2 separate regions of the Homo sapiens genome follow, and region 1 is linked to region 2. A link means that fine-mapping ties the variant in region 2 to the expression of a gene that starts in the linked region. Tissue or cell type: whole blood. Region 2 holds a variant in brackets; the other region holds the start of a gene. All regions are shown on one strand. Distances are from middle to middle.

Region 1 (2,905 bases), 23 kb after region 2:
TGAATCACTTTCATTCCTACACAAAATCCCTTCCGAGAAGCGGGGACTGCGCCTGGGCCAGGAAGGGACTCCCCTACCTGTAGGTCCCAGCAAGCCACGCCCACCGGCCTCTCAGGGTTGTTTCTTTCTGGGTCGAGGGACGGAGCTGGCCCTTGCGATATTTTAGGCCCCCTCCTGCCCACACTGGGGCCTGCTCATCCCATTATGCAGATGCAAACTTGGCAGAAGCAGCCTTAAACCTGTTGGCAAAATAAACAAAGCCAAATAAAGAGGAATCTGCCAACCTGAATTGTGTGAAGTGGCCAAGGCCGACTCCACGCACGCTCGGCTTTGTCCCTGAAGCTGTTACAATACTAGTTTAAGTCAGGTGCCTGGGGTCCACCAGCCAATGACCCCTAGCATCCACCGCAGACCTTCACAGAGATCCCCATTGTCTACAAATTAAAGCGTTTTGCAAATTAAACCCCTCCACACAATGCCAAGCTAACTGTGCTCATAAGGCAGTTACCCTCCATGCCTTAAAACTCACATATCAAATTTTTCCAAAAGCACTCGGTGATTAAATCGCCCTGAAAAAAACCGAGAGAGCCGAGCGATTGTGAGAAACTTTGGTTCATTCAGGTGGCTGTTAGAGTCCTGTAAATCTGGGGCAGGGCGCAGAGCCTGAAGCCGGGCACAAAAGCTCCCTTCGCCGAAGCGAGGACCTCCTTTATGCAATGTGACAGCAGCTTTGTGCGCGAACATAAATAGTTGTAATAAACACGGTTAAGTTCTCCCGGCCGATCGCGGCCTCCCCCGTCCCTGCGCCGGGGCCCTGCGATCCGCGGCTATTCTTCCCCGGCACACGCGCCCTGGCGACCCTGGCCACCGCACGGTCCCACGCTAGCCCCGAGCTCCGTGCCGGCCGCCCGCCTGCAGGCCAGGCGCAGCCTGCGCACCCGGGGGTCTCCAGTCCCCGGGCCCCGCAGCCGGGCCCCCTGCCCTGATCCTCGCCCGCGCCCTTGGCTGGCGTCCCCGCCCCTGGGCCGGCCCCCGATGGTGGGGGTTAGGGATGGGAAGGCGGGCAGGAAGGTGCAGAGCCGGGAGGTGCCCGGCAGTCCGCGGTCGGGGGCGCCCAGGCCGCGGCAGGGCCGAGAGCACCGGAGGGGCGCGGAGGGGACCCGCTCTCCTGGCCCCTTCCCGGGCGCACCCCGGCCCGCGAGCCCCGCCGCGCTCCCAACTCCGCCCAACGGCCCCAAGTTTGTGGCCCCCGCCCCACGCCCGCCTAGCCGCGCTTACCTCGCCGTGGGCCGCCCGCGGAGCCGGAGGGCAGCGGCGCGGGTCCCGGGGCGGTGGCCGCGCTGCGCCCGCCCAGGCGCCGCTCTTTGTCTGCGCCGCTCCCTCCTCCCGCCGCCGGGCGGACGCTGCCGGCCCGGGCGGACCCTGCCGGCCCGGGCGCCGCGAGCCTCCCGGCCGCCAAGCCCTCCCCTCCGCCCGCCGCCCGCTCGGCCGCGCGGCTCCGGCCTGACGATCCCCGCGGCAGCGGCGGCGGCGGCGGCGGCGGCGGCGGCGACCCTCCCCCGGCGCGCAGCGCCCGCCTCCTCCGCGCTCTTCCTCCTCCTCCCGCGCTCCTCCCCGGCCGCGCCGTGACGCCGCCCAGGGGCCGGCCCAGGCCCGGGCGCGCGGGGCGGGGACCCGAGACCCACCTGGGGCGCCCCCCGTCGTCGCCAGGCTCCGCGCCCGGGTCCCGGTACGGGCGCCGGGATAGCGCGGGGCTGCGGGACGCTCCGCTCTGGAGGCGCAGCACGGGCCGGGCGCCGGGGGCAGGAAAGGGTCCCCACGCCCGAAATTGCGTGCGGGCGGTGGGGGGCAGGGTAGGTGGGTGGGGAGGAGAGTGAAAACACAGACGGCAACTTCCAGCCTGGGATGACTGCCGGGTGGGCTTTGCGTCCTCTTTTTTGTTTGTTCGTTGTTCTTATCACGAAGCTCTAGTTGCTGGGCAGCCGCCCCCCTCCCGGAAGCATTCCCACGGCACTCAGCTAAGCAGGCCTGTTGTCCATCAGAAAAGTGACTTAAATAAAAATGTCACTTCCTCCCTGTAATTGCTTGTGGGCATTTTTATTTATTTGCTTTGCATCTATTTACTTTCCCAACCAGACACATTTTTAGTCCATCATCCCTGTCCGAGGCACTTCCTAAAAGAAGAAGAAACTCGACCTCTGTTGCCTCCCAGGCATCCAGGCCAGCCCCAGCCTGTGGAATCCTGGTTGCACACCCGTGGGGGCAGAACCCGAAGAGGAGCTGCCCGAATGTGCCCCTAGAAGGAGTGTCGCTAATGATGGGACCGTTCAGCTCACCCAGCCTCGAGTTGTGGCTAGCCTATAAACAAACTTGGAAGATGAAAACCCAAGAGCAAGGGGAAAGACACAAGTTTCCCTTTCACAGACACATGCATCCGGATGTCTTTTCTCCTCCCCATATGGTTTCCCAAAGGAAATCCTAATATTCAAATGATTCTGATTTCCTGGCAGGATAGCCTGCATCCATGTTAATGAGATTCTTTCTTAGGCTCCTGGTCTCTGCTTACTATTAAGGCAATAATAATTTACCCAAGGTTACAAGGCTGTATTATTTGATTCACTCATCTCCTGCTTCCTTCCAGAAGGGAAGTACCCAAGGATAGGTAACTAGAGTCAGCGTAGCTTTGAAGTCAGACAGGTGAGTGTTTGACTGTTGACTTCCTGAACTGTGTAACGTTGCACAGGTGGTCCTCAGCCTTTCTAAAATCTGTCATATGGGGAGATAATATTTACTTACCTCCTATGTGAAGTACCCTGGCAGTAGGTAGCCCTCAATAGCTCAGTAAGTGGAAGGAAGCACAGTACACTGAGCAGGAATCAGGTACAAGCTCAGGGAATCAGAACAG
Region 2 (2,905 bases):
GTTCCCTCCAGAGGGCAGTGGGCAGTGCAGTAGGTCACCCACACGTCCCATTTCTTAGAAAACCTGCAGCCATGGATGCCTAACTTCTACTGTGGAGTTATTCTTCTGTACGTTATTATAAGTAGAGTCACAATTTTTGTGCTACATTTAAACATTTTGTATCTCTAAGCTTCCTTAGAAATGTTACTATATTTTTCCTACATTTGCTTCCTGAGAAGCAAGAACGGGGGAGTTACCAGCACAGTGAGAGTCATGATTCGTCAGACCCAGGGTAGAAAAGAATGTAAAATAGGCACGCATCAGCTGTTTTACTGAGAGGAGGGCTTTAAATAGGGCGCAGCCAGCTGGGGATGGGGAGGGGAGGGGTGGGGCGGGGCAGCAGGCTGACAGGGCTGCCCAGGTGGATAATAAAAAAGATCTCTGGTCTTGGTCCCTGGTTTCTGGCATAGAGCTCCTAAAGCCCTTGGTATTTACTGAGCAACAAGAGTGCCCTTAGTGATTCATAGAGAGCCCCAGTGCACCACACCTGAGCTTATGCTAATGAGGTGACCAGTGGGGTTGGGGGGTGCCCCTAGATAGCCTGGAGGGGAGCTGGTCATTGCCAGAAAGACAAAACGTGTGATTAGAGAGTGGGAACTTTCTGCACCCCCTACACCCCAACCTCTGGGAGGGGTGGGGGGCCAGGAGACTGGGCTGCAAAAACTCTTGAAAAATGGGATGTGGGGAGCCTCCACGTCATGAACTCATTGGGATGGTGCACTAGGAGGTGTCTCCCCCAGGGGGCATGGGGACTCCCACCCCTCGTCCCATGTGTCACTTCCTTTGGGCTGTTCCTAAGTTGCATCCTTTAAAACAGGGGTGTCCAATCTTTTGGCTTCCCTGGGCCACACACACTGTAAGAATCATCTTGGGCCATACATAAAATACACTAACATTAACTGCAGCTGATGAGAAAAAGAAAATTTCAAAAAAAACTCATCATGTTTTAAGAAAGTTTAAGTATTTGTGTTGGGCCGTATTCAAAGCCATCCTGGACCGCGGGTTGGACAACCTAGCTTTATAGGAACCACTAACAATAAGCAAAGTGCCTTTCTGAGTTCTGTGAGTTGTCCTGGCAAATTATGGAACCTGAAGTGAGGTCATGGGAACCCCAATTTACAGCCAGTTGATCAGAAGTACAGGTGGCTTAGGACATGCAACTGGTGACGGAAATGGGGATGGTCTTGTGGGACTTAGCCCTCAAAACTTGTGAGGCCGGCACGAACCCTGAAAAGCTAGTGTCAGAACTGAACCAAATTAGGGGACACCTAGGTGGTGTCAGAGAATCAGAGACCTGTTTGATAACACAGCCACCGGCCACACG[C/T]GGCCACTGAGCACTCAAGGGGTGGTGAGTCCAGCTATGTCTTGCTGTGAGGGCAAACACACACTGGACTCTACAGACAGGCAAAGAAAGCAAATGAATGGCATTAGCAATTATTTGAGTATATGTTGAAATATTTTGGTTATGTTGGACTACAGAAGACTTAAAATTTGTAGCCTTTTTCATGTGGTTACTGGGAGAGGTGAAGTTACACATCTAGCACACACTGGCAGCTTATGTTCTATTTCTGCTGGACAGTGCTGCTTGAGATGTCTTCATTTCTGAAAACACAAGTACTGATGTCCATTTTTTTGTCTCAAATTTTTCACATGTAGAAAGACAGCAACTACTTAAGGATGAGAGCCGGGGATGTGAGTAATAGAGAGGGAAGGAATTAGTATTTATTAAGTGCATATTAAGTGCTGGGAACCACCCAGTATGTCCCACAATTTCATGCTAGCAATCCCCTGAGACAATGGGTATCCTCCTCCTCCTTTCCCAGGTGCGGGCACGGAAACCTCAAACCTCGCGCCAATAAAGGGACAAAGCAGGGACTCCAATGCAGCTCTCCTGATTTCTGTTCCTTGCTGCACACTAGGGGCTGCGGTTCTTCTTCTGGAAAAGGCCTGATATTTCAGGCTTTGTGGGCCACATAGTCACAATTCCTCAATTCTGCTGTTGCAACATGGGGCAGCCACAGATGCTGTGGAAATGAATGAGCCCAGCTGGGTTCTAATAAAACTGTATTCACACCCAAACAGGTGAACTGGATTTGGTCCATGGGCCACTTTGCCAACCTCTACTGTAACCACAAAGAGTAACAGATATTCCTAAATCAATTACTGTATCATCAGTGCACCAGAATGTAACACTTATAAAGAACACCTTTCACAAAATACTAACTAGGTTATTGTGGAAACAAGGGAATAGGGAGGGTCCAATTTTGCAGGTGAACTTCCTGTTAGGCTTCTAAGCTCATATCAGACATCCAAGTAGGCCACGTCACGAGCAGTATTACATTAACAGCAAATTGCATTTGGTTCAATGACATGACATGTATGTGTGACATGAATAACATTACAAGCATATACCTGGGAATATGGAATGGTATCTATGAGATAAACACAGACGGGGGTCCAGGCTTCCAGGTCGGAGCCTCCCTGGCTCCAGAGAGATAAGCAGGCACCAGGAACCCAGCACTGGTGTGTGTGGGCCTGAACCTGGCTGACCATACGAGTAGCTGACCATAAGAGTAGGTGTGACACACCTGGGCAGGTGTCCTCAGGTGAGAAGAGTTCCTCCCAAGCGTGTCTCTTCACATCTTCTCTTCACTCCTGAGTTTCACCAACACTGCACAGGCAGCAGGAAGACGGAGCCAGAAGCCTCCAGCCAGTTACTAAACTAATTTGATGGCTTAAATATTAATTTGTAAGTCAAACTAACACTACTCACTACAGATGGAAATAGTTTGGAGGGAACGAAAATCCTGCATGCCCACAAGATGGAGGGATAGCCGAGTAAAGGAAAGGTCTGGGGACAGAGCCA

What was found. PIP is the estimated chance that this variant, and not a neighbour inherited with it, causes the effect.
Region 1: it holds the start of NCK2, and the variant in region 2 is fine-mapped to the expression of NCK2 in whole blood (TOPMed, PIP above 0.99).

The regions. Positions count from the first base shown.
Region 1 is chr2:105,743,512-105,746,416 of GRCh38, reverse strand. NCK2 (NCK adaptor protein 2) reads right to left here and starts at 1,505. Exons shown (of 5, transcript NM_003581.5): 1 at 1,279-1,505. RefSeq lists enhancers at 195-244, 345-414 and silencers at 785-1,174, 1,285-1,344, 1,535-1,854.
Region 2 is chr2:105,766,737-105,769,641 of GRCh38, reverse strand. All of the region lies in intron 1 of NCK2 (NCK adaptor protein 2), which reads right to left. Among named protein-coding and RNA genes, the nearest start is that of NCK2, 23 kb to the right of the region's middle. RefSeq lists an enhancer at 1-409. The variant C/T (reference allele first, on the strand shown) is at 1,364.